4 linked regions of the Homo sapiens genome follow. The protein of the gene in region 1 interacts with the protein of each later gene in a biochemical or structural test. Each region holds a gene or a part of one and is shown on either strand. Other genes may lie near its edges. The genes, in order: LRP2, RBP1, SYNJ2BP and LRP2BP.

Evidence for each region.
Region 2: the proteins of LRP2 (region 1) and RBP1 form a complex in vitro, tested with the Homo sapiens proteins (one study listed by BioGRID).
Region 3: the proteins of LRP2 (region 1) and SYNJ2BP form a complex in vitro, tested with the Homo sapiens proteins (one study listed by BioGRID).
Region 4: the proteins of LRP2 (region 1) and LRP2BP form a complex in vitro, tested with the Homo sapiens proteins (one study listed by BioGRID).

The regions. Positions count from the first base shown.
Region 1 is NC_000002.12:169,352,526-169,359,554, reverse strand, and holds part of LRP2 (low-density lipoprotein receptor-related protein 2 precursor), read left to right. Parts: intron 1-7,029. UniProt on the Homo sapiens protein: Multiligand endocytic receptor. Acts together with CUBN to mediate endocytosis of high-density lipoproteins. Mediates receptor-mediated uptake of polybasic drugs such as aprotinin, aminoglycosides and polymyxin B.
Region 2 is NC_000003.12:139,536,729-139,544,021, forward strand, and holds the start of RBP1 (retinol-binding protein 1), read right to left. Parts: upstream 3,015-7,293; 5' UTR 2,991-3,014; coding exon 2,732-2,990; intron 2,232-2,731; coding exon 2,053-2,231; intron 1-2,052. UniProt on the Homo sapiens protein: Cytoplasmic retinol-binding protein. Accepts retinol from the transport protein STRA6, and thereby contributes to retinol uptake, storage and retinoid homeostasis.
Region 3 is NC_000014.9:70,365,996-70,372,116, reverse strand, and holds the end of SYNJ2BP (synaptojanin-2-binding protein), read left to right. Parts: 3' UTR 1-5,618; downstream 5,619-6,121. UniProt on the Homo sapiens protein: Regulates endocytosis of activin type 2 receptor kinases through the Ral/RALBP1-dependent pathway and may be involved in suppression of activin-induced signal transduction.
Region 4 is NC_000004.12:185,371,910-185,378,938, reverse strand, and holds part of LRP2BP (LRP2-binding protein), read left to right. Parts: exon of another isoform or gene 1-731; 5' UTR 732-752; coding exon 753-858; exon of another isoform or gene 859-1,100; intron 1,101-1,276; exon of another isoform or gene 1,277-1,809; intron 1,810-1,920; coding exon 1,921-2,030; intron 2,031-3,212; coding exon 3,213-3,326; intron 3,327-4,477; coding exon 4,478-4,620; intron 4,621-4,698; coding exon 4,699-4,804; intron 4,805-5,859; coding exon 5,860-6,083; coding exon of another isoform or gene 6,084-6,087; exon of another isoform or gene 6,088-6,429; intron 6,430-7,029. UniProt on the Homo sapiens protein: May act as an adapter that regulates LRP2 function.

The sequences.
Region 1 (7,029 bases):
ATGAAGTAAAATCCAATGAGATTGTAACAGCCTTTATTTAAGCACTACCTTTTAGGTAGGCTACCATTGCAAACTTCGCATCACTAAAAATTGGAGGGGAAAAAAAAGAGCTCTGAGTATTCTATGTTTAGTCTTTGAAAAAAATTATACCACATCTGTTGTTAAAAATTATTTGCATTTTCCTTATCTTTTGTGTAATGCTTTTCAAGAAAAAACATTTTGCAGAGTCTGAACTCGAGTCAAGCTGTTGGGTTCCAACATTGGCTTTACCACTTTCTAGCTGTGTGACCTTGGGAAAGTCAACCAACTTTGCATAGCTCAGATGGCTTATCTGCAAAATTGACAAGATAATAAGAGAATTTACCCAATGACATCTTGTAAGCATAAAGAGATAAAATATGCCAAGTGCTTAGCATGGTGTAAAGCATATAGACAGTGAAAATAAACTAGAAAATAATCTAAAAATACAATATTTTTATTATATTTATCAACCCTTAAAGTAACATATTGTTTTGCTTCCTATTCCTATTTCCATTTCCAATTTTCAAATATACAAAGGAAAGTCTTCTTTAAGCATTTTTCACTAACAGTTCTCTGAAGACTTCTCAGACCCTAGCATGTGATTGGAAGATTTTTTCTTTTTTTTTTTTTTTTTTGAGAAAATCGTATTGGCCTTAAACAAAGTTGTATTCTGTTTACTAATTAAAAAAACTTATTTTTCAAAAATAGAAATGGGGTCTCACTGTGTTGCCCAGGCTGGTCTTGAACTCTTGGCCTCAAATGATCCTCCTACCTCTGCTTCCCAAAGTGCTGACATTATAGGCAGGAGCCACCTTACCTGGTCCAACATTATATTCTTTAATCCAATAAAAATGTGGTAATGTTTTTAAGAGTTAGTATCAGCTTTTATGACAATTACATCTTCACATGAAGTTTATATGTTTAAAAGGATTGTGGGGGCAATAGCAAACTTGTATCGTTTTTATTCCATCACAACTCTGGAACCTCACTGCTGCTTTAATTTCACAGTTGTTGGCTTCTCTTTCTCTACTTGAAAAAGTTTCTCTTTACCAGTCTTCATAAGACTTCTGCCTGAACTCCCTTCAGTCATGCACCTGTCTCATTTTAATAGAAACTCAGACTTTTTACAGCTAGAGGGAACCTTAGATATCAACTGGTCTGCTTGCATTTTTTTTTTCTTACAGATAAGCAATTAGCCCAGGAGGGAGAAGAAAGGGGCTGAGAGGATGAAAGGGAAGGCGGTTAATAGGTTTCTTGCCTAAGGACATCTAGCCTGTGACAGAGCTAAGATATAAATTTGCAGTGGACCATTTTTTAGATTCATGCCTTCTGAATGTCCCCAGCCTGTTTGGTTGGTTGAGATTTCTAGATTCCTTTTGGAATCCTGACTTGCCAGATAAGGCACAGTCTGATAAGCAGATGAATCTTAAAAACAATTGGATGGGTTACCTGTCCCTGGCCAAAGAGGAATCCTGTGATAGGTTATTACAACCATGTACCATGCGCTTTCAGCTTGGTCCAGAACTGATGCCATGTCAGTGCCCCTACTCCCAAAGACCATACCTCCAGATCCATTTTTCAAATTCTTGAGCCATCAAAGCGCATTCCTGAAGATCTTTGGGTTTTGTAGTGCAGGCTGCTGTAAGACTAGGTTTTCAGTCTTACTAAAGGTAATTATTAGGTCATAATCATTGTTCATGTTCTCTAGTCAGGCACTGTAAGAACACTGAAAGGTTTTTAAAATATTTAAATTAAAATTTTAAATTATCATTTAAAAATAATGATACCAGGAACCTAGATGTATTTCCTGTGTAATCAGAAGCAAGTGCATTGTCATATTGGCTTTGGAGTTTCTGTTAAGTCCTAGTAGCTAGAACAAGGTAAGTAGAAAGTAGAAGGTGCTGAGCTGGGCGTGGGGGCTCATGCCTGTAATCCCAGCACTTTGGGATGCTGAGGCGGGAGGATCATGAGGTCAGGAGATCGAGACCTGCCTGGCCAACATGGTGAAACCCTGTTTCTATTTAAAACACAAAAATTAGCTGGGCGTGGTGACGCACACCTGTAATCCCAGCTACTCGGGAGGCTGAGGCAGGAGAACTGCTTGAACACAGGAGGCAGGGATTGCAGTGAGCTGAGATTGTGCCACTGCACTCCAGCCTGGGTGACAGAGCAAGAATCTGTCTCAAAAATAAAATAAAATAAAATAAAATAAAATAAAATAAAATAAAATAAAATAAAATAAAAATAAATAAAAAAGAAAAAAAAAAGAAAAGAAAGTAGAAGGTGCTTATGAAAGAGTGTTGAATGGATAGGAAAGGGGTTCTCAAGGTTGACTGCACGAATCTAGAGCAACTAAAAAAATACTAATTGTGAAGCCCTATTCTAGCATGGAAAAAATAAGCTTGATGGAACCTTTGGTATAAATCAAATGGTTCTATCGTATCCTATTAACTTTATAGTCTTGAGTAATTAAAAATTTTTACCACTATTGTGTATTCTGTGAATGTTTATTTTATTTTTTCCATGAATATTTATTAAATATCAACAGTGTGCTGATGAGTCAATAGTATCAATACTACAGAAACATTAAGGAAGATGAGAACTGAAAAGAGGTGTCTACATATCTCGCAATTAAAATGGACTGCAGTTTTGCATTTAAGATTCTGAAATAGTCATTGACTCATTCCTAATAACCCTGCCCAGGATCTCACCAGCATTAGAAAGATTGGAGATGTTTCAGCATCCGAGTTCTGGGATGCTTCTTGATAATGATCAGCTAGTAGTTGTTTTGAAATGTCAAGAGCATTTCTGTGGTTCTTCACATGTTCCTAATGCAAATGTTTCCGAAGTAATTTCTTGACAGTTACAGTGTTTTGAGATGAAGTGGGAAGGGCTTGTGATTTTGAAGTTGGAGGATCTTGGTTTGATTCCTACCTCTGCCATTTATTATCTGGGAAATCCAGTACCACACATGCTGGGTGCTCTGGGGCAGTTTTCTTATCTGTAAAATGGACATATATCTACCTCACGGGGTGGTTATGCAAAGGCAATGAATGTGAAATGTTTAATAAACTGTGAAGTCTCATATAGATTTCCATTCATCATTATTACCCAATACGAGAATTTTACTTTTTCCAAACTTGAGAGGAGGAAGATGTTGCAGTATTTTGGTATCTTCTTTACCGTGGGTCTGAGAATGATGCACCTGTGCATGTTGTTACATCCTTACAGTGGCTACCACAACTTCACATGTTATTCAGTACTGTTATGTTGGTGAATGTCACAAAACTAAGTTAAACTGTCTGAGGCAAAAAAGGAAGGTTATTGAAATACATAGTTGAGGCTGGGTGTGGTGGCTCATGCCTATAAATCTCAGCACTTTGGGAGTCTGAGGTGAGCGGATTGCTTGAGCCTAGGAGTTTGAGACCAGCCTGGGCAACATAGTGAGACTCCATCTCTACAAAAAATACAAAAAATTAGCCAGGAATGGTGGTGTGCCCTTGTGGTCCCAGCTACTTGGGAGGCTGAGGTGAGATGATCGCTTGAGCCCAGGAGGTCGAGGCTACAGTGAGCTGTGATCATGCCACTGCACTCCAGCCTCAGCGACAGAGTGAGACCCTGTCTCAAAGAAAATAAATACATAGTTGAAAAGATACAGATAATTAGGTTGATCCATTTGAGATTGATTTTTTTTCCTATGCAGAAATAGTCAAATATTGGCAATTTCATTTGGTTCAACCTAATATAAAATGGAGGCTCAAACTATGTCAGGCCAATCTTGTCTTTTTTCCGTCTCCTGGCTCTGAGATGACTCCATTCTTAAACATGTTCTCCTTTGATGTAAAGCGGCTGTCAGTGGCTCTGGAGCCACCTCCTATCAGATCACATCCACTGGGAAAGAAAAAGAGTTTTTATCTTAGCTATTCCCAGCAAAAGTTTCAGTTGCATCTCAGGGTCTCTACTTAGGTCATAAACTCATTGGAGAACCAACCACTGAATCCCGGGTCATGATGTGTTCCCATGGCTTAGGCTTGGGCTGTATACTCAGTCTTTGAGATCATGTATGAAGGGGTGGAGTCCAGAGAGAAATGGGGGTAATTATTGGGAGAATGGTGAACAGAGGCTGGGATGCAAAAATAACAGGTGTTCAGTATACCTTATCAGATAAAATTGACTGACGATGTTATTTTCATTTTGTATGTGAAGACACACTTGAAAAAGCTACAGAAATTTCTCAAGAGCTGGCAGCCCTGGGGTAACTTACAGAATTGAAAGGAATAAAGTATTGGAAACATTAAGAAAAAAGACATGGTGATCTGTGCCCATGTGACCATGTTGCAACTTTAAGTTTAGAAGGAGAACAGGAGAAAGAAGGACTTTTAGAAGGTTTATTTGGATCCTAAAGTTTTCTTATTTGGAGCAGAGCTTTGTGATAGACAGGAAAGTTCTGGAAAATGAGCTGAGCGATCAGACTACAGGATCCCTTAAGTCTGGTGCAGTATTTCATTTTTCTGTGAATCTTAGGCTCCTACTCCTTTTCCAATTTACTTCACTCCAATGTTTATGTTCCTAAGAGTTTGTCTGTTTTCCAAGCACTAGTCCTTTGCTATAAGGATGGGGTAGAGAGAAAGAAGCTTAAAGAGTTTGCAGACAGGTTAAGATGCTTCTGTGGAGACAGAACACATCTTGGTGCACATCTGAGTGTCCTTAGCACTTCATCTATGGACTTCTTTCATAAATGGTAGAACACGTATCCATCACACCTTATTGGATTAATTCAGAAATGCCAGATATATGTACTCTTTGCTGATGGTTACTTTGTTGGTCTCTAATTTAAGTCTTATCTCTAATCACATTAGCTGAGAAAATGGAGACATTATCATTCTAAAAATAAGATGGTTAACTTTTATATTAGGACACTTCTGATTTAGGATAGCACTGAAATTCAGTGCAAAGAAATGTAAGTCTTTCCTAGATAATGACAGATTAGACAATTTGAAGTTTCACTTTTGGTCATTAGCCCTCAGGTCATGCCTGACCTCAAGGTTACTGGAAACAGTGAGAAATGAATGAAAGGAGGAAATGTAATTACCATTCTGTGCATTGAATAGTTGAGCCACTGTTACCATGGATACAATGGCGCATTTATTGTCCAGATCTTGAGATCCAAGTTTGTAAGCAATATCCAAGGTCTCCTTTAAATTTATGTACTATCAGCGAATAACACATGAAGATTCCTGGTAACTTTGAAAATAAGTCTTTCCTCACTGATCTACTGATTCACATTAAGTAAGAGCATGTGTACTTTTGAAGGTGTTGAGGAAACCTGAAAAAGACGAAAAGGAAAGTAGCTACACTTCTGTTATGCTGGACATTCTTGGATTCCTCTATAAAAATATTCTGTCTTATACTGTCAGTGATTTGCTTGTCACTTTGGGCCCAGTTCTTTGGTTTTTATGTCATTAACAAGGAGAAAATTTCCTGAGTAAAGGTTGAAAAAATCAAAATCGTTTATTTTTATTTTTTGAGACAAGGTCTTACTTTATCACCCAGGCCAGAGAGGGTCTCACTTTATCACTCAGGCTGGAGTGCATGGCTCCCTGCAGCCTCAACTTCCCAGGCTGAAGAGATCCTCTCCGCTTAACCCCACAAGAAGCTGGGACTACAGACACATACCAGCACTCACAGTTAATTTTTATATTTTTTGTAGAGATGAGGTTTCTCCATGTTGTTCAGGCTGGCCTCAAACCCCTGAGCTCAAGTGATCCTCCCGCCTCAGCTTCCCAAAGTGCTGGGATTATAGGCGCTAGCCACCATGCCCGGCTGAAATCATTTATTTTGTCAGGAAATTCTTAAAGTTGAATTTAAGAATGAAAGTATTTTATCAGAAATATGGCAATCCTACCCACATTTTAATCTCACTAGAAGGGGGGTGATACATGCTAGCATGTACTTCCACACTGGTTTAATTTTGATGTGGGGAAGGGTGTGGAGAATACTTTTTGTTGCAAGAAACAGAAAACCCAACTCAAAATGGCCTACACAATAAAGGGTATTTCTTGGCTTATGTGAGTAAAAAATACTGAGGCAGAGTGGGGTTCAGGCGAGGTGCAGTCAGGGCTCCAGTTCTCTTTCTTTGTGTTTTCCTTGACCCTACTCCCCCCTAAGTTTCACCTTTGTGTGCGGTCTGGCTTCCCATATGATTCTGATATGGCTGCCAGGGCAAATGGGGCTACGTGTTTCCTTGATCCTATCCAGGGGGAATCCAACTTTGAGAAGGTTTTAGTTATGTTCTCAAAAGTATTATTTCATCACAATAACTTACAGATTGTTAGAATTTCTAAGGACCCTAGACAAAGTCAGCTAGCTCCCCAAACTTGACATATCATCAAAATCACCTGAGGAACTTAAAAAAGTATAGAGATTCTTAAATCAAAACTCACCCTTACTAAAGCAGGGGTATGAAAATCTGTGTTTTTTAAAAATTTTATTTTATTTTACTTTCAGTTCTGGGATACATATGCAGAATGTGCAGGTTTGTTACATAGGTATACATGTGCCATGGTGGTTTGCTGTACCTATCAACCTTTCATCTAGGTTTTAAGGCTCACATGCATTAGGTATTTGTCCTAATGCTCTCCCTTCCCTTGGCCCCCACCCCCTGACAGGCCCCGGTGTGTGATGTTCCCCTCTCTGTGTGTGATGTTCCCCCCCCTGTGACCATGTGTTCTCATTGTTCATCTCCCACTTATGAGTGAGAACATGCGGTGTTTGGTTTTCTGTTCCTATGTTAGTTTGCTGAGAATGATGGCTTCCAGCGTCATTCATGTCCCTGCAAATGACATGAACTCATTCCTTTTTATGGCTGCATATTATTCCATGGTGCATATGTGCCACAACCAACCCAAATGCCCATCAGTGATAGACTAGATAAAGAAAATGTGGAAAATCTGTATTTTTAAAAGTTTCAAGGTGATTCTGAGGGCTGGACCAATTTTTGGGAACGTG
Region 2 (7,293 bases), on another chromosome or scaffold:
TTTGCCACACTGTGTTGCGAGTGTTGGTGTGCCTGCCTCCACTGCAAAGACTTTGCTTTCCTGGACATCAGGGCCTGTGACATGCTCTGCTGTCCTGTGCCTGCCGTGGTGACCAGCCCGTGAGGGAAGCAGTATGTTCAGGGCAGTGGTTAACTAAAATCCTCCCTCTGCACTTCCCCAAGGTCACACAGCAAGAAATCCTGCAGTGGTTTTCTTATCTGTAAAATGAGGCTTGAAAGGGTGTTGTGAAGATTAAGTCAGCTAATGTAACGTTTGAATAGCATCTGGCATGACAGTAAGCACTTGATGAGTACTGCATTTGCTAGTATTACTAGGTGATCAATAAATGTTTCATGTGTTAATGGATGAAGAAAGGAAGGAAAGAGTGAAGATAATTAGTACAAGCCAGCACATGCCAGATTTGTGGTGACCCAAAATAAAGGTTCGATGTGATCTGTGAGTTCCACAATAGTGAGTGGGGGTAAGGATTATTCTTAAGGAGCAAAGTTCCATGCAGTGTGCCGGGGAGCAGGTCTTGGGCAGTAATGAGAAAGGCAGATGCCATCTGAAGGTCTCCTTTCCTATTGTGAGTCTTTCCTGCAGATTAAGAGTCCTTGAGATTTTTAAAGGCACAACCTGACATTTCTCTGCAACAATGGTGTTTTCTCCCATTAGTGGTCCTTCCAAGGCCACTCCCTGCTGACTACCCCCTCTTTCCCATCATTCCAAACAGCAGACTCAGATACCAATCCTGACTGCCTTCAGATGAATAGACAAGGTGGGGGGATGAGTCATCCAGGCTCCAGATGCCTATTCCCAGACATGGGCATCCCTTCAACTACAATCCTAACAGACCTCAGCTATCTTGTTTCTGCACAGACTACCAGCAGAGAAGCTGGCAGAAAGCAGGACTGTGGGCTTCAACATCAGAAGGCCCAGGGCTCAAGTCTCATCTCTTACAAGTCTCTTCCTCTGTCTGAGCCTCAGTCACTGCATAACATGGGGTTACTTATCCCTCCCTCACTGTGCTGTGCTGTAAGATGACTAGCACAGTGCTGGACACACAGCAGACCAGCGGTAAAGACCCTTGGTAAATGGTGGGAGGTGGTGGGTGAGGACCCCATCAATAAGCAAGGTGGCTCCTGGGATGAACATAAGCCACTTCTGAACCCAAGACTATAAAGGGAGAACAAGAGTACCTTGACCTCCCAGCAACCAGATAATGTTGATGGAGGCCTGGGGCTGGCCTTCCGGCATCTGCTGTGGCAGTACTAATTGGGATGTCCTGGGTCAGGAGTTTCCCACCCTTGTGGAAGGGAGCTCTTGGCCCTCCCTCTTCCCCCACTGCTGTTTCCTCTGGTCTGGGCTGGAGGGGCCCTGACTTACTGAATAGGTGTCAGCTGCAAAGTTCAAAGAATGCTCAGTAGGCATTGGATGACAGGGTGGGGCAGGGGATGGCCAGGAGCCAAATCCCAGCTCTGGGGCAAGGATGGGCAGATCAGGGGGCTTCCAGCAGAGATCAAGGGGCCCCCAGCTTCCTGGAGTGACTTCACACTAAGTCATACTGAAAGTTTACACTTCAAAGGGGTTACCTGTGTTTCTTTTTTCTTTCCTCCTTTCTTTTCTTTTACCCTCCACCAGCCCAGTCAGCCAGAGAACGGCATCAACAGACATGCTTTGAACTCCAGACCCTCCCTAGCTGTGCTACTCTGGACATGTTACTTCATCTCTTTGAGACTGTTTCTTCATCTGTAAAATGGGCATATTCATATCTCCCTCAAAGGCTGTGTGAGGCTTAGGTGAAGTCATGTGCATAAAGCACCGGGCAGAGTGCCTGAACGCAGTGGAGACACAGCACATGGCAGCCTTCATAACCATCACCTTCCAGTGTAGATAGAGCAGGATGCTTCATGAGTTGGTGCTGCCCACCATGGGGGCTGAGAGTGGGAAGAGTTTTCAGTCCCTCAGGCCCTTGCCCCCTCTCGGATGAACTAGCCCAGCCCTTGGTCAGGCCCCCTGGGCAGGAGACACCAGGTGGACGCGAATCCTCACCATGCACTTGCGGTCATCTATGCCTGTCAGATCCTCCTCAAACTCCTTCCCAACCTGGAAGTCCATGATGTAGTTCCTAAAAGTGCTCAGCGTGCGGATGATCATATGGTCACCGTCCTGCACGATCTCTTTGTCTGGCTTCAGCAAGTTGGCGATTTTGCGCAAGGCCACATTGACGTCTGCGGTGGGGGTTGAACGGGGAGAGAGAGAGCGCCAGAGAGTTGGCAGGGAAACTCAGAGAACCGTTCCCAAGGTAGCGGGGCCCCAGGAGCCCTCTCCGCCCGCGAACACTGTTAGGGTTCCCGCTGGCTTTGCGTTGTCTCTGCGCACAGCCTGCCTGTGCCTCCCCTGCCGCCCCCAACAAAGTTTTCTGCTCTTATGTTAACCGTTTAAAAACAAAAAGTAGCAAACCAAGCCCCAGATTTACTAATGAAATTACCCACCTCCAGGGCCAACGAGCAGACATTTGCCACCGGTTAACCTAACAACCCCGAATTCTCCAATCTGCAGCCTGGGGGCTGCCCTGGGAGCGGTGGCCGAGGACGCCCTTTCTGGCGTCCGGGGGCACCGGACCGCGGCTCGCCGGGATGGAGGCAGGCAGGCAGCGTCTCGGGAGGGCTCTAGGGAGCGGCCCGGAGCTGCTCGGCGGGGCGCCCAGGGCGCAGCGGGCAGCGCTTACCGAGGGCGCGCAGGTACTCCTCGAAATTCTCGTTGACCAACATCTTCCAGTACCCAGTGAAGTCGACTGGCATTTCGGGGAGTGACTGGAGCCAGTTGGCCACAAGCGGGCGGGACGGCTGGAGACTGCCGGGACAGCGGCTGCCGGTGCTACGCGGGTGGTGGGCGGCCCGGAAATGAGCGCCCTCCGGGGACAGGGGGCTCTGCGGGGCGGCGACAGCTGGATTCCCAGCGCGCACAAAGCCTGCGGGAGGATCCATTGTAGCGGTCGCTCCTCCCCGCTTAGCGAGGGCGGGCGCAGGGGCGGGGGATGTCGAAGGGTCAGGTTTGTCCAGGCCGCGCCACCTTCGTTTCAGACGTTCAGTTCGTTTCCCCTACAAAGGAAGAGGAGACCGGAGACGGGACGTTTGCTTTGTTGGCCGAACTCTTCGGCTGCTGGGGATTTCCTTCAAACGCCATTAACTTCTCACACTCAGCAGCCACTCGGGAGTTGGGAAACAATCTCCTGGGGTTTGTGCTGGCGTGATTAAGGAAAGAGGCCACTTACAGGCCTTTGTCTAAAGCCTCGCGCCGGTGGTGGCTGGGGTCAGGAAAGCTGGGAGGTTCAACTACGGGCGAGAAAATTGGGGCACTTTCCACGTCTCTCCCGAAAATAAAAGAAAGGATGCCGGGCACGGCGGCTCACGCCTGTAATCCCAGCACTTTGGGAGGCCGAGGCGGGCGGATCACCTGAGGTCAGGAATTCGACACCAGCCTGGGCAACACGGTAAAACCTCGTCTCTACTAAAAATACAAAAAATTAGCCGGGCGTGGTCGCGGGCGCCTGTAGTCCCAACTACTCGGGAGGCTGAGGCAGGAGAATAGCTTGAACCCGGGAGGAGGAGGTTGTAGTGAGCCGAGATCGTGCCACTACACTCCAGCCTGGGCGACAGAGTGAGACTCTGGCTCAATAAATAAATAAATAAATAAGTAAAATAGTTGATGTTATTTGAAGTGCATGTGGCTAAAAAAGCCTTCTGGGTGATTCTGATGCACAATCAACTTTGAGATCCACTGCTGCTTTATGCAAATGTAAGCAATATACTGTTTATTAATGTTTCCTCCCGTTTCACCTAATGGCAGCACTGTACTCCACGGTGTTCTGGACTTTGCTTTATTCACTTAATATATTCTGGAGACTTTTCCATAGCTGTACATAGAAAGTATCCCCATTATTTTACGGAGTATTCCATTGCTTATCCAGCTTGTCCCCTGATGGACAAACTATATTGTTTCTGATCTTTCACTATTAAAAGCAGTACTGCAATGAAAATCTTTGATCACATCTCCTTTGTCACCTGCGTGGGTATGTCATTGTGGTTTAACTGCATTTGCCACCAAGTAGATGACATAATCACATGGGCTGACTTTTTGACCCTCTTTTTGACTACCTCTTTTAAATCGCTTTTTGCACAAATCACAGCCTAAGTGACAGCAGATAACATTTTCTTCCCCTCTAGCACCACCTTCCCCAGGGTGCCTCCCTGGGGCTCACATGTGTTCTCACAGTGCAGGCTGAATTAGGAAAAGGAGCCTCTTCCTCAGGGTAGAGACAGCTTCCTCCCAGGCAGCAACTTGGATTTCAGCGCTTCTCACCCTCTTTCCCTAGACTAGGATTTGTTTCTTAATCTCTGTGCTACTGACATTCTAGGCCACATAAGTCTTTGTTACAGGAGCCTGTCCTGTGTACTGTAGGATATTTAGTGGCATCCCTGGCCTCTACCCATTAGATCCCAGTGGCACCCAGACACAAAGATGTCGCCAGACATTGTCAAAGGCACTGGGGTGTGGGTGCTGGGTAAACCAGCCCTGGTTGAGAGCCAGCTCTAGGCCCTTGTTTCCCACTGCTTCTTTGTCTGGCTCTGGATGGTTAGGTCATCAGTTGTTCACACAAGCACTGGCTCTGTGTCCCTCCCTAGCCAGCCCAGGGCTCATCTTGGCTGGGCACTCAGGGCAACCTATCCCAGTCCTTCCAACCTGAAGGTGCAATAAGACACCTCGCAAGGATGGATGGGGCCTGGCCCAGGTTCTGTAAGGCATCCCACCAGGGCCAGCCATGCTTTGGGCTTTCTTGTTATCCTGACTTACCAGAATGGAGCATTGGTCAAAGGCTTAAGCAGTGAACTGGCCATTCCTTGGTCACTTCCAACTAGTCTAAACTCTTCTCCCTGCTCTCTGATGCCTCCAGCCCAGCTAGCCGGATTTCTCATCCTCCCCAAACTTCTCCCTTTATGCTGAATCACCTGAGATGGTTTATGCCAAATGCTCAGCACAGTGCCTGGCACACAGCAGAGGCCAGTCTGTTCTGACTCCCTGCCATGCTTGGAATGGCCCTTTCGTGCTCGAGGCAGAGGCCTGCCCACCTCTCCAGTCCTTCTTGTCCATCCCAAAGAACCACAAGCTTGCCACTCCTCCCTCTTCTGACCACGTTGGATAACTTCTGCTCACCTGATCTCACTTTTCTGACCTGGTCAGCTGAACATATAGCACTTAATTCAGCTAGTTTCACTCAGTTTCTGTCTGTCCACCTCTTTGTCTAGTCTTCCAAATGGGTCAGTACGCTCCTGCCCTTCTGGGTCTCCTCCCAGGCACAGCCCCTGGTGGCTGTGCTATTTCTTGCAGCAAAGGGTAGGCTGCATGTGTAGGCTTTAGAGGCAGAATGCCTGTTCTTGCTAGCTGGGTCACTGTCTACCAGAGTGATTTGGGGTAAGATACTTGATCTCTTTGTGGCTTAGTCACCACATCTGTGAAATGGGGACACTCTGACTACCTCTCAGGGTGCTGAGAAGCAAAGGATGAGGAATCTACAGGGCGTGGCACTGAGTACTGTTCCAGATCCACTGCTGTTTGAGCCAGAGGGGCCCTAGAAGGGAGGGAAAAGACAAGGGAGAGCCTGGGTGCTGGTTTGTGCCCCTCTTCTGGGGCTTTAAGATCAGTCTAATGAGTTGAAATGGGAAATGCTCTTCAGAAGCATCAGCTACCATCAAAGTTATCCTTCCTCAGCCCATGCTGTTGTGCTTGATTTAATCCATTTGGTTCTCGATTTGGAAACAAAAAGTATTTTTTGGAGCTCCTTTCTGTCTGGGTTAATCTTCCTTGGAATGTGTGAAGCAAAGAAAGAGTAACTGAACACAGTATGTAAAGAAGAAGGAGGGTGTCTGTGTGGGCTTGCAATCAGTGAGGGCTCCCTGGACGGGGTGAGGCTCTAGCTGGAGCTTGAGGACAGCCAGGATCAGAGAGATGAGGAGGAGGAAGGATAGTCCAGGTGACCAAGGAGACAGGTGAGCAATGGAGTGCCAGAGTGCCAAAGCAACGGCCAACTTGTAAATGACTGAGAGAAAGAGATGTCAGTATACTCAGGCACCTCTAATGGGGTTCGCTTTATTCAATAGCTTTAAAGAAGAGCAGCAGAGATCTACAACCAATTCTTGGGGGCTCAAATTGCTCCCAAGGCCACAAAGAAGAGCCAGACCAGTGGGAAACCACCCTGGCCTGTGTATAGAGTGAGTTAGACAGGCACAAAGAACAATTTTATGTTGGGGAGGAGAGGAGACAGCCAAGGATCTCCAGCGTGAGCTCCTGAGTGAGGGAAGCTCAGGGACACTGCAGGCCCTTCCTGTGAGGATAGGAAGGAAATATGCCTTTTCATTTTTCAGCTGATCAGTCAACTCCACAGGAACAAACCAGAGCTCAGAAAAATATGTCCATGGGCCGGGCATGGTGGGTCACCCCTGTAATCCCAGCACTTTGGGAGGCCGAGGTGGGCAGATCACTTGAGTTCAGGAGTTTGAGACCAGCCTGGCCAATATGATGAAACCCCGTCTTTACTAAAAATACAAAAATTAGGCAGGTGTGGTGGCACACACCTGTAGTTCCAGCTACTTGGGAGGCTGGACAGGATAATTGCTTGAACCTGGGAAGCTGAGATTGTGGTGAGCCGAGATTGTGCCATTGCACTCCAGCCTGGGTATCACAGTGAAACTCCATCTCAAAAAAGAAAAAGAAAAAAGAAAAATAGGTCCATGAAATGATGCCTCAATCGCCTGCCTTGTGAGGCGGGCAGTACTATGCCTGTATCACTGCAGATCAAGCAGCTTGCCAGGGTCCCCAGTTGTTGGGGTGGCAGAGCTTCCCAAAGGCAATGGGGTTGGAGGAGAGCCCTGAAACAGACCCTGAGGTTCTGTCCCCAGCCCCCAGAAGATATTTCTCTCAAGATCCTGGGGTAGGGGGTGACTTGCAGTCTCATCCCACCCTGTCTGCCAGGTCTGCCCCATGCCAAGAGATTCACTCCTAGCAGGGGAAAGGTGGCCTGATACTTCTACAACTTATAAGAAAATATTTCTCATCTGGCTTCCCTGTCTCTCAGACCATGTCCCTGCTTTTCTTCTCAAGGGCTCATTGTTATCTTGGAGACTTCTAAAATCTTCCTTTTTCCTGTGTTCAAATATGTCTCCGGAGTTATGCGATGGAGAATGACCCTGCTCAAATCTCCGAGCCATTACCATGCCATCTATGAGGTTAATG
Region 3 (6,121 bases), on another chromosome or scaffold:
ATTAAAAATCTTAGAAGAACAATATTTATTCTTATAACAGCCAACTATGGTGAGTTATTATAAGGTAAATTGCCATAATCCAGCGCTGCTCACATCTAAAAAACTTTGAGGTGTAAAGGTAAATCGTACCAATCTCTGGGCTGCCCTAGTGACTTTTTTGATACCTCAGAGTCCTATTGAAGAACCAGGTGGAATGATTGTGGTAAGGGCTATAGTGCTGGAGCCAAACACCCCAGCAAGAAAACTCTAAAAGGACAAAAGATAAGGTAGTGCCTCCAAGGTGGCACCTGAACCCTCTCAGGCTACTTTTTGGTTTCTACTAACAAACCTGAGGGAAGGAACTGCCTCCCTGGCAGGATGGGCATCAAATCAACTCTGGCTTCAGATTTAGTTAAAATGAGGCCGGGTGCAGCGGCTCACACCTGTCATCTCAGCACTTTGGGAGGCCGAGGCAGGCAGATCACAAGGTCAGGAGTTCAAGACCAGCCTGGCCAACATGGTGAAACCCCATGTCTACTGAAAATACAAAAATTACCTGGACATGGTGGCGCGTTCCTGTAATTCCAGCTACTCAGGAGGCTGAGGCAGGAGAACTGTTTGAACCAGGACCTGGGAGACGGAGGTTGCAGTGAGCCAAGATCACGCCACTGCACTCCAGCCTGGGCTACAGAGCAAGACTCCATCTCAAAAAAAGAAAGGCATGGATTGCTAGTATTTTTGAAAGGCTTTATACACTACATACGGCTTTTAATAAACCTTTTTGCAGCAAGAGGGAGGAAAAGAGTTTTGTTTGCTTTAGGAGGTAGGGAAATGTGGTAGGTGTTTCATGCGGCCTAGGAGGAGGATATGAATGAATGGATACTATGGAATGCCAGTGATCTCGATAAGGTGGGAACCATCCTGTTCATGTTCTTTTAAGGCTGGTTTTAAGCACTATGGGTAGCTGAATTTTCTGGCTTTAAGAAAATCATTTCCATTAGCCAAATATATTGGCCATACTATAGGCCTTTTATAATTTTGTTAGCAAGATTATCAGGACTCAGGCAATCAACTGTATTTCATTTCTAGCTTGGACAGTCTGGTAATTAAATGTTGATTGGACATCAGCTTTGTCAAGACACTTTTACAAAGAAGTACAGTGCATATCCTCCATCCCATAGGGCTTTTGGGTTCCAACTGCGAAGACAACACTCTTATTGGCCACATAGGTAGGACAGTGTAAGTAGGGGTCATGTTTATATTACAGACAGCAAAAGAGAAAAGTTACTGAGAACTGGGGCGTTTGAGAAAGTTACGTGGAGGAAAGGGACAAGTTGAAGACCCTTAAGGGCCTCACAGCCTAGTTAAGAGAATTCATAAACAGGTGAGAAGTTAAAAGTATATCAGCAGGCTAAGTATTGAAAACAATATTAAAGGGGTACCATGCAAAACACGATGCAGCAACAAAGAAGATATGCAGGTAATCATCACATTTTCTTTTAGAAATTCAGGGAAAAAAAGATGTCACATAATGGCATCAGGCTCAATTGGAAAGGGAAGGCTTTTGAAAATAAGAGGTCCGGTAAGACCTTGCCTCTGGGTCACTACTGGTATAGGGAGAAACTTGCTTTAAACAGTCCTGACATAAAGTGCCTTTTGACATCAACTATTCAATACCTTTGAGACTCACTTAGACAACTGGACTCATTGTAGGTTCCACAGAAAAACACGGACAACATTCTAGTTGTCACTCCAACCAGCCACACTAGGAGGGCACAGCCTCTGGTACCCTTTCTGTTCCTGAAGGCATGTACAGCGGCTTCTACAGCAAGCTTGCTTACCTCCCAGGATTCACCTCATGGTTTGGACACTGATTCCTGAGAGAGCCTTGAGACACACAAAGTGAAAAAAATGTCAAGCAGGAATGAAAGCTCTAGTTTTTTGCTTGTTGGTATATGTAAATTTGTTTAAAAAGTATCCATTCTGTCGTTGGTAGAAGTTTTGCTTTGGTTGATAATAGAGATTCTGATGTACTCTTATAACTTAGGTTTTCTCAGAAATTAAGTAGCATTGAAGATCAATGTAATACAGTTTTAAGCAGGTACACTAATTATATTATTGATTCTATAGAAAACTAAAATTATAGATGAGGTATCAGGATCCATTATAGGTTGTAAAAAAATTCATGTTCTTCATAGATTGAGTCTAATATTTCTTCTATAGATTGCATCTAATGTTCCTACTACCTAAATTATTACGTTCAAAGTTTTGAAAATTGAACGAAGGTATTTTTAAGTACTTAAAACATTTCTCTATCATTCTGTATTACATGTATAATTATAAGATATTGTTTGCTTCAACTAGCTGTACTTTGTTTTCCTGTGAAGTTTCAACTTATGTGTTATCGATTTAACTTAATTGTTCCATCTAGCCATGTATAATGGAAAAAGGAAGTTAATATTTGTTATTGTGTTCTATGCCAGGGACTGTACCAAACTCTGATTGGTACATTATTTCATGTCTCATAACTCTGGGATCTAAGTATTGTCACAAAGAGACTAAAAATGAGAGAAAAAATTACTTGACTAGGATTATGTAGGTGGTAATAATAGAATCAGGATTTAAACTCAGGACTTCAGATGCCAGCATCAATGATATTCTCTCACTGGAAGTGGTTCTCAAAGCAAGGTCCTGACAAAAGCATCAGCGTTACTGGGGAACTTGTTAGAAAAGCAAGTTCATAGGCTGGGCATGGTGGCTCATGCCTGTAATCCCAGCACTCTAGGAGGCCTAGGCAGGTGGGTCACTTGAGCTCAGGAGTTTTGAGACCAGCCTGCACAATGTGGTGAAACCCTGTCTTTACTAAAAGTCAAACAAATTAGTGGTGCATTCCTGTAGGCCCAGCTACACGGGAGGATTGCTTGAGCCCAGGAGACTGAGGTGCAGTGAGCCGTGATTGCTCCACTTCATTCTAGCCTGAGCAACGGAGTGAGACCTTGTCTCAAAAACAAAAAAACAAACAAACAAAAAACAAAAAGCAAGTTCCCAGAAGAGAAAAAAGAAGTTCCAGACCTAGTGAATCAAAAACTCTGAGCGTGGCATCTCACAATCTGTGTTTTTGTAATCCTTCCAGGTGACTGATTCATGCTAAAGTTTGAGACTCATTGCTCTATGCCAGTCATCATTCCCTTTGCTCAGGTTAGAATCATCTGGAGAGCTTATAAACGTCCCCATGCCCAGGCTGCACACAGATCAATTAAAAGGAACCTCTGAGGGTGGGACTCAAGCAGCAGTAAAATAAAGTTCATTGAGTGATTCTGGTGTGCAGCCGCAGTTGAAAATGTTATATAGCATTTAAACAAGACACTATTTAATTAAACACTATTTAAATTATTAAATTACATACATTGCTTCAGGCAAAACAACAACAACAACAACAACAACAAAAACTTGGGCCTTTAGAGCCCAGCTTCCTGAGCTTCTGCACGAAGTAAGTGGAACATTCATTTCTTCCTGATTTGCTAAGGATTGATCAACCTCCAGCAAAATGTATGATTAGTGAGTGTTTCAGTTGGTGCATCAATTAAATGAGAACCAATCATAGAACATTGAAGCTAAAAAGGACCAGAGAGCTTCTAGGATGAATCTGTCTTAGAGATGAGAAAAATAAAGGCTCAGAGAGGGAAGCTAACTTAACTCTGATCAGACTTAGTTTGTTGCAGAAGTGACCTTTCTGTCTCATATTTATGTCTTGAATATATTCACTACATGAATACACAGACTACCCATTTTATCTTAGTCTACTTCTTTCTTCTCTCTTTGGGCCTGAATAAAGACCAGAACTGATAGACAGCTAAAGGATATTGCAAGCATCATTATTGGAATTGGGAGATTCCACAGAACAATCTGAGAATGATCTCATATCAAATCCAATCAGATGAGTTATTCTGAGACTAATTCCAATAGTTCTAGAGACTTTTTTTTTTATGGTGGACATTGTTTTTATTGTGTAAATAAGCAATTTTTAAAGTATATTTAAAGAAATGAAACATAAGGAAGTGTATAGGCTGTCAGGTATGTGGGGAAGTGAAGTTCATGTAGTTTTCATGTGGAGCCCATACAGATTTTATTATAGTCAATTTTAGTGAAATTTATCGTTGGTCAGATGAAGGTTTTTTTCCTTCATTCAGCAAATAACTAATGACTGCCTACTATGTGCTAGGTGCCGAAGATAGAGAGATAAATAACACTTAGTCACTCTAAGCTGAAATTGCTCAGCATATGAAAGTGGAGGAATATTTGTAGGTGATTTTGATGTTAAAGTATTTTTTTAACATCACCTGGTAGTAGAAGATTGAGTTATGAAGCTGTCTACCTCTCACCTGTAATAGTTTTAGAGTTGGTTGCTATTTTGGTGTAAGTCTTTTTTGCTGTTCCTCTTTTAACTGCAAATCTTTTTGAGACCAGCACTCACATCCAAAAGGGCAATTGTGATAAAAAAGAAGACAGTATTTTAAGGATTCTGATCAGAACCAGATTCTTTTCTTTTCTTTTTTTTTTTTTTTTTTTTTTTTTTGAGACGGAGTCTTGCTCTGTCGCCTAGGCTGGAGTGCAGTGGCACGATCTCAGCTCACTGCAATCTCTGCCGCCCGGGTTCAAGCGATTCTCCTGCCTCAGCCTCCCCAGTAGTTGGGATTACAGGTGTGTGCCACAACGCCTGGCTAATTTTTGTATTTTTAGTAGACACGGGGTTTCAGCATCTTGGCCAGGCTGGTCTTGAATTCCTGACCTCGTGATCCACCCATCTCGGCCTCCCAAAGTGCAGAACCAGATTCTTAACTGCCACAGACTCTTGTATTATGTAATTTATATACAGAACACAAAGCACTTGATTTGCTTAACTGATGTACTTGATGATACTATAAAACCTATATTATGAGAAAGCATTGCTCCTTCAAAGGAATCAAGTGATAGCAAACACTCGGTCCTGTTTCCAGGTTTTCCTCACTGTTCATTTTGCCTTTGTTCTTGCAGGGGGAGAATGAAAGGGGCGAGAGCTAAAGTGTGTTGTCAATGCAAGTCAATCCTTAACCAACAATAATTTACAAAAGAACTTTATATTTGCTGTAATCATTAAATTTAGTTACTAATCCCAGGAAAAGGGTTAGTCCTTCCTCCTAGTTTGTAGATTTGCAAATGGAGATGAATAATTGAATCCTATTTTAATCTTTTATCTGCAGTAATCTGGGCTTCTTATTACCGGATATATTTGCATTTTACCTCCAGGCCATGTTAGTTCTTAGAAGATTATTTTCCTCATGAACCCTGTTTTGTTTTGCTTCCTTTCTGCTTCAATTCTAATGTCACATTGCATACCTGGATGTAAACAGCAGTCAGTTTCTCAGATCAAATAGAGCCCTGTAGCAACTTGGAAGACACAGAAGACACACGGACATAAAACTGTATTTATTATCCAGGGAATGTCACTACGGATTAATTATGTTAATGAGGCCATCAAAATCTATGGTAATCTTTCAGGCTTTGTTGTTTGATACCAGATACAGCAAATGAGATAATAATGTGTCTAATTGTGCCTAGCCAGTATTGGTATTTAATAAAACTTTGTCATTGAATCTTTACAATCTTTTTTCACCTTATTTTGAAGACCGTTGATTAAATATCTCATTTTTTTTTCTTCCAGATGAGGGTTTTTTCCTTCATTCAGCAAATATCTGATAAGTGCTTACTATGTACTAGATATTCTTAGGGTAACACCTCTGACAGAATTGTGGAAAGAGGAAGAAATCTAAATGATCAGTTTGAGGCTTTGACATAGGAGATAAGGAACAGGACATTGATATCCTGTTAACAATTATGGAGCTCTTATCAATATTCCAGCTTTTGTTCTAAGGCCTTTGCATGTATAATATTTATTTAAGCCTCAAAACAACTCTTAAGATAACTGCTGTTGTTATCTTCATTTTATAGATAAAAGGCATAGAGAGGTTAAGTAACTTGCCCAAGTTATACAGCTACTAAGTGCCAAAGCTGTGATTTAAACCCAGGCAATCTGGCTTCAAAACCTGCATTCATAACTATAACACCTTACTGTCTCTACTTCCCATGGTACCAGGCACTGCAT
Region 4 (7,029 bases), on another chromosome or scaffold:
TCTCTTGACCACCAATCAGGAACCTTTGCTGGAAGCTTGTTTCTGATTGGTGAAAGTAAGCCATAACAGTGGAATGCCAAGGAGTAAATACAAAAGTGTAGCAACAACTGAGTTTGCTGTCTCACTACCCTCAGCCTAGGCCAACCTGGACTCCTTCACCCCAAATGAGGTGACCGCTACATTTTATATGAAGACACTGATTTACCATTCAACTGTGATCCATCTTATAACATGGCAATCCAATACAGACAGGAAGATAAAACTCAACAACAGCTAAAATAAAGTGTATTCCCAGGTAAAATAGACAAGTGCTTTAATTTGAAATGGATTCGTCCGATGAGTGTCAGTTACAAGGGCAGAGAAGGTACCAGTGCAGAAGAGCTCTGACTGTGGGCAGTGTCACCAGGTCCCACTAAGTGGCAACACTTGTGCTGGGTGACTTGACCCATCTTGATGTATAAACCCATAGCCAGACAGGACGTGCAAACAGGTCTCATGGTGAATGCGATGCTGTGGAAAATGACATGGAGAATGGCTGTCTCTCAGCTAGGGAGGAGGGTCTTGGTGTCCTAGTAAAGAATGTTCACGTCCTGGAGTTGGTGGTTGGTGTTCTATCTAGGCGATGAGAGAAGGATGCTTTTCCTAATGAGCACCTGGTGGGAATAGAGTCTCTCTTTGCACTTCGCTGGAGGAAGAAATTTCTACCACTTATTTTTTCTTCTTGCTTATAGAATACACATTGCAGAAAAAGGATGAAGTTGACCAGTGAAAAGTTGCCCAAGAACCCCTTTTATGCCTCTGTATCTCAGTATGCTGCTAAAAACCAAAAATTTTTCCAGTGGAAAAAGGAAAAGACTGGTACAAATCCTGATATTTAAGCTTCCCTTGGAAAACACTTTAACAGTTCATTTTGCATGCTAGAGCAAACGAGACAAGAAATAATGTGTTTTATTGATTTCAAGGAAGTGGTTAATCATTAGTCCTTTTGAGTTTTCCCGCAAGAATCTGTGAAATTGCTCATTTATCTGGTAGCAAATCGTCAGTGAGGTCTCACAGATAGTTAGGTCTTGATTTTACTCTCAGGACTTAAGGACATGCTTCTAGAAAACAGAAAGCAGATGTCACGTTTGTTAAAGAGAACAATGCCAGGCTTGACTTGCAATTATTATTTAAATACCTTATCTTCCCTAAAGTCTTAAAAATGTTATATTAGGGATGGGTTGCTCATTTGGTTAGAGGAACTCTCATTAAGGCTCAAATTAAGAATTTAACTCACCTCTCCAGAGAGCTTTGCCCATTGAAGACAAACCAATGCATAGACTTATACCCAGCCCTGCACTGTTAGGGCTCTACTTGGCCATGAGCAGGGTTAGTGTGAAACCAATCAACAAGTATTGTTTGTTGTTGTTGTTGTTGTTTTGAGATGGAGTTTCGCTCTTGTTGCCCAGGCTTGAGTGCAGTGATGCAATCTTGGCTCACCGCAGCCTCCGCCTCCTGGGGTCAAGCTATTCTCCTGCCTGAGTCTCCCGAGTAGCTGGGATTATAGGCATGCACCACCACGCCCTGCTAATTTTGCATTTTTAGTAGAGACGGGGTTTCTCCATGTTGGTCAGGCTAGTCTTGAACTCCCAAACTCAGGTGATCCACCCGCCTCGGCCTCCCAGAGTGCTGAGATTTACAGGCGTGAGCCACCGCGCCCGGCCAGTATTGCTTTATTACACAAGGCACAGTGTTAGGGCCTGTGACCATGACGTTTTTTCAGGTAATATTTCTTCCTTGAGCTAAGGAGGCCAGTTGTAGGAATGAGCACTAGAAAGCAAGAATGTCAACAGTGTTAGATGGATTTTATATGATTCATTACTTCAAGAGAGAAAATTCATATTGTGTGGTTGATGGAATTCCTTACCTTTTTAAAATCAGATTACACCCATGCTAATTTGGTGGATAAGGCATTGCAGCTCTTGAAGGAAAGAATACTGAAAGGAGACACTCTGGCATATTTCCTACGAGGTCAACTATATTTTGAAGAGGTATCATTTTTTGTTTATTCGTTTTCATTTCCTGTAATTCTGTTGTTAGATCCTCAGACAAAAATTTCATGTAGAGTTTCTTACTGTGTTATACTAGGGAAATTCTGTCCAATTACATCGACTATGGCTGTGGCTTTAACAGTAGGATACAGTGCTGCCAGCTTGAGGAGCTACCTGACTTTTCTTCATAAAATCCATGTCATGAAAGCCATTTATGGGAGTCGTTTTAGTATAAAATCCATTTCACACTATAGATTAAAAATCAAATTTTTATATTTTTGCTCAAAATATTTAATAATACAAATTATATTATCAGGCCGGGTGCGGTGGCTCACGCCTGTAATCCCAGTACTTCGGGAGGCCGAGGCAGGTGGATCACCTGAGGTCAGGAGTTGTAGACCAGCCTGGCCAACATGGCTACACCCCATCTGTACTAAAAATACAAAAAAAAAAAAAAAAAAAAAAGTAGCTGGGCATGGTGGCACACATCTGTAATCCCAGCTACTTGGGAGGCTGAGGCAGAGAATCGCTTGAACCCAGGAGGCAGAGGTTGCAGTGAGCTGAGATCGTGCCACTGCACTCCAGCCTGGGCCACAGAGCGAGACTCCCTCTCAAAAAAAAGTATGTTTGTATTACCAGGTATCTTCATATTAATAATAATTGAAGCCTTGATTTTTATCTAGTACTTAGGGGAAGCTTTAGTTGTTCCTGGATAGCATAGGAGGAAATCGCCCTCTTTCTCCACATCTTGTTGGGGTGGCCTGGGAAGTAGACTGAGGAATGGCTATGCCAGCTGTCCCCTCAACTTCAGTAATGTAGTTTCGGTTTTTCATTGACTTCCCCGGGAAGACTTGAAAAGGGACTGACTGTCTTTCACCATTTGTTGACTATTTGGGCAGCTGTTCACCTATATCCCACTTACTCTCTCACTTTTCGATGGCACCTTCGTCTATCCTGGCAACAAATGTTTGCTGAGGGCTCATCGTGCGCCTGTTACTCTGAGGATGGCAGAGCACCATGGCTGAGAGCATGCTTCCTCAGCGTGGGGCATGGGTTCAGATATGGCTGCATTGCTTGTTAACTGTGTGTTTAACTTGGGCACAAACACTTGACCACTTGGTGCCTTTGGGATTACTTTAAGATCATAATAAAAATAATTAAATATCTTCTGGGTGCTTCTAGGGATGGTATGAAGAAGCATTAGAACAGTTTGAAGAAATCAAGGAGAAAGACCATCAAGCAACTTACCAGCTAGGAGTGATGTACTATGATGGGCTGGGGACCACTCTAGACGCTGTAAGTTAATGTCTTGGTCACAGTGGTTAAGATTTCATTGTCAGTGGATTATTGGACACAATTAAAATTATTTATATTTTAATACATATATATATACATATATATATATATATATATATATATATTTTTTTTTTTTTTTTTTTTTTTTTTTTTTTTTGAGACGGAGTCTCGCTCTGTCGCCCAGGCTGGAGTGCAATGGCGCGACCTCGGCTCACTGCAACCTCTGCTTCCCGGGTTCGAGTGATTCTTCTGCCTCAGCCTTCACAGTAGCTGGGATTACAGGCACTGCCACCACGCCTGGCTAATTTTTGTAGTTTTAGTAGAGACAGGATTTCACCATGTTGGCCAGGCTCTACTAAAAATACAAAAATTAGCCAGGCATGGTGGTGCATGCTTGTATTCCCAGCTACCTGGGAGGCTGCAGTGAGCCAAGATCATGCCACTGCACTCCAGCCTGGGTGACAGAGCAAGACTCTGTCTCAAACAAACAAAAACCAAAATATATTTGATTGTCCAATATTATTTTCTTCTTTTGGGTGATGTTTGAAGGTTTGTGTCTGATGGATTTGGGGGTGGAGGGTACAGATCTGTTCTTGCTAGTGGTTAGAATATCTTCTATGCTTTCCTTGTGACCACGTAGCAGATGTCGTATTAGTGCATAAGATTTGTATATTAGATACAAACTATGAGCACACAGTAAAAGTATGCTTGAATGGAAGACGGTGTTTGTTAGGGGCTCGCAAGTGTATCGTAAGAATTATAAATGTGAAAGCTGTTCCTGGCCATTCTTCCACTTTAGCCAGTTCTAAGAACTGTGCTGATTCAGGATAAGGGTTATTAGATGGGAGGGAGGAGAGAAAAAAGGAAGCCCATATCGAGACTTAAATCAACTCAGGCAGCTGTAAAAGGAAGGAAATTTCTTATATCCCAGAGCTCCTGGGAGTGCCTGAGTAGGAGATGTACTTTTAGAGATTCTTTTCCTCCTTATCGCTTGCCCTGCAGAATCCAGGACAATTGTACCCCTTGGGCACAGATTCATAGTATTATACATCGTGTCAGAGGGCGGACACTTCACAGCCTTATTGGGAGAAAGAAATTCAGTTTGGGTAAAACTAAAAACTAGGGTTTTTTTGCTCTTTCTTTTGTCGAAGGAGAAAGGGGTGGACTATATGAAGAAAATTCTTGATTCTCCATGTCCCAAAGCAAGACACTTAAAATTTGCAGCTGCTTACAACCTCGGAAGAGCTTATTATGAAGGAAAAGGTGTTAAACGATCAAATGAGGAAGCTGAAAGGTAATCCTACCTGAGAACAAGATTAGGTTTGAAGGAAATGCTGAAACCGAGAATAACATGCCTCACTTTCTCTTGTAGACTGTGGCTTATCGCAGCAGACAATGGAAATCCCAAAGCTAGTGTGAAGGCTCAAAGTATGCTCGGGCTGTATTACTCAACCAAGGAGCCCAAGGAGTTAGAAAAGGTAACGTTCCCTCTTTTTTAATGCTAGTGTTATATTTAGATTAATATTTGTTTCACTGCTTTTTTTGAGAAAATGGTGGGGAATGTCGTTTTAAATATCTCTTATAGTTCCTTTAAATGTAAAGAAAGCATACATTTTAGGATCTCAAAGCCCTTTTATTTATAAATGTCCCCTTCCCTACCTCTACCGAAGGAAACCATGAATGTGAGAGTATTTTGTATACTATAGTATCAAAGCTAAAAGAAGAGAAACAGTCCTGAAATTACAGCCAAAATCCTTCTAAGCATGAACAGATGAATATTACCGTTGACTTGAGAAATTGATACTAATAAGTAAAATATACCAAGAATTAGTTACAAATAAAATCCATCTAAGATTTTCACAGAAATATAATCTCTTTCATCAATGGTTGAAACAGTTTCCAAAAAATCCTATAAGGAGAAGGAAATGGGGGCTGAGTCCTACTTGTGAGAGAGGAGTTAATGGCAAATTTGCAAGAGACACATAACAACTAAGGCCATCTTTGGATAGATAAGCAGCCATCTGGAATTTTTTAAATGAATTCAAATTCACTGTAGCAGAGTATGAGGCAAATGTGCTTGAGCCTACATACAGCGTTTATCCTGGGTTGTCTTTGATCGCAGCAGCTGCTATCTCTAGAATCCACCGGGAGCTCGAACTCTCCCTTAGCATCAGTGGTTTCCCCTCCTCTGCTGTGCCTCACGCCTTTCAGACACTGAGTTCCTATTTGGCATCTTCCTGATCCTTACTCTGAAGATCCCCAAATCCTGAAACCTAGGACAGCTGGTCTTCCTCTGCCATAAGCTGCCTGGACTGTGATCTCACCTGCACTGTGGACAGACAGCGGAGGAACTCGCCTCCACACTGTGTTAGGCATGTGTGCTAGTGTGAAATGCGTCCAAAGGCCTACCGCTCTTTCCTAGAGATGATTAATAGTGCTATCTAGGAAACACAGAGTTCTTTTCTGTCTAGTATTCCCTTATAATTTCATCTAGTGGATCACAAATACAATGATGAAACTGTGCTTTTCTTAGGCATTTTACTGGCATTCCGAAGCATGTGGCAATGGGAATCTGGAGTCCCAGGGTGCACTTGGGCTCATGTACTTGTATGGACAAGGCATCCGGCAGGATACGGAAGCTGCCCTGCAGTGCTTAAGAGAAGCAGCAGAACGCGGAAACGTCTATGCTCAAGGGAATCTCGTGGAGTATTACTATAAGATGAAATTTTTTACAAAGTGTGTTGCATTTTCCAAAAGGTGAATGTCTTTGTCTGTTCTGTGCTGCTGTAACAGAATATCACACACTAGGTAATTTATGAGAAACAGAAATTTATTTCTCACAGTTCCAGAGGCCAGGAGAGGGCTGCAACCTCCAGAGGGGAGGACCATCATGTCCTCACGTGACAGCAGAAAGCTACAGGAAACCTCTTTTATAAAAAGGGCTTTAGTCCTATTCATGAGGGAGGTGCTCTCATGGCCTCGTCGCCTCTTAAGAGCCCCACCTCTTGATACGATCACACTAGCAACACTGGGATTTCCAAGGGAACTTACTAGTCAAACCATAGCAGTAATGTTTGAATAAACTGGATGAAAGTATTGATAAGAATGCCTACTACATGTTCTATGCCAAATCCTTCACAGAGCTTTCTGCAGTATTAGAAATGATAGCTATTGAGCACTTGAAATGTGTCTAATGCAACTTAGCACTAAACTTTTAAATTTTACTTAATGTAAATATTCATATGGCTGGTGGTTACCATACTGGATAGCACAATTCTATGCCATTAGCCTTCAGGATTTCAGTGCTACTAGCTGAAGCAAGTTTTTTAAGCAGCAATTGCCTTATCTGTAAGAAGAGAATACCTTTATAGCAGGATTATAATCATGTACTTAACACAGCTTGGCATGTCACACATTTATTACGTCTTCATTTCTTCCTGCACTCCTCGGTCATGCAGTTCTATAACTGCACCACTGAAATACAGCTTCATAACAACTGTAACATGAGAATATGGTTAAAAGACTGACACTATATCTAATAAAATATAAAAGACGTCTTTTCTCGGAGTCCGTAAGGCTCCATGTACTTTCCTACACGTATTTACCCACAGTGTATAAAAGCAGTGGGTCGGGGAGACAGACCTGGGTGTACTCTAGAGTGGCCATCAGACTCTGCGTGTGCTGGTGTTTCCCAATCACACCC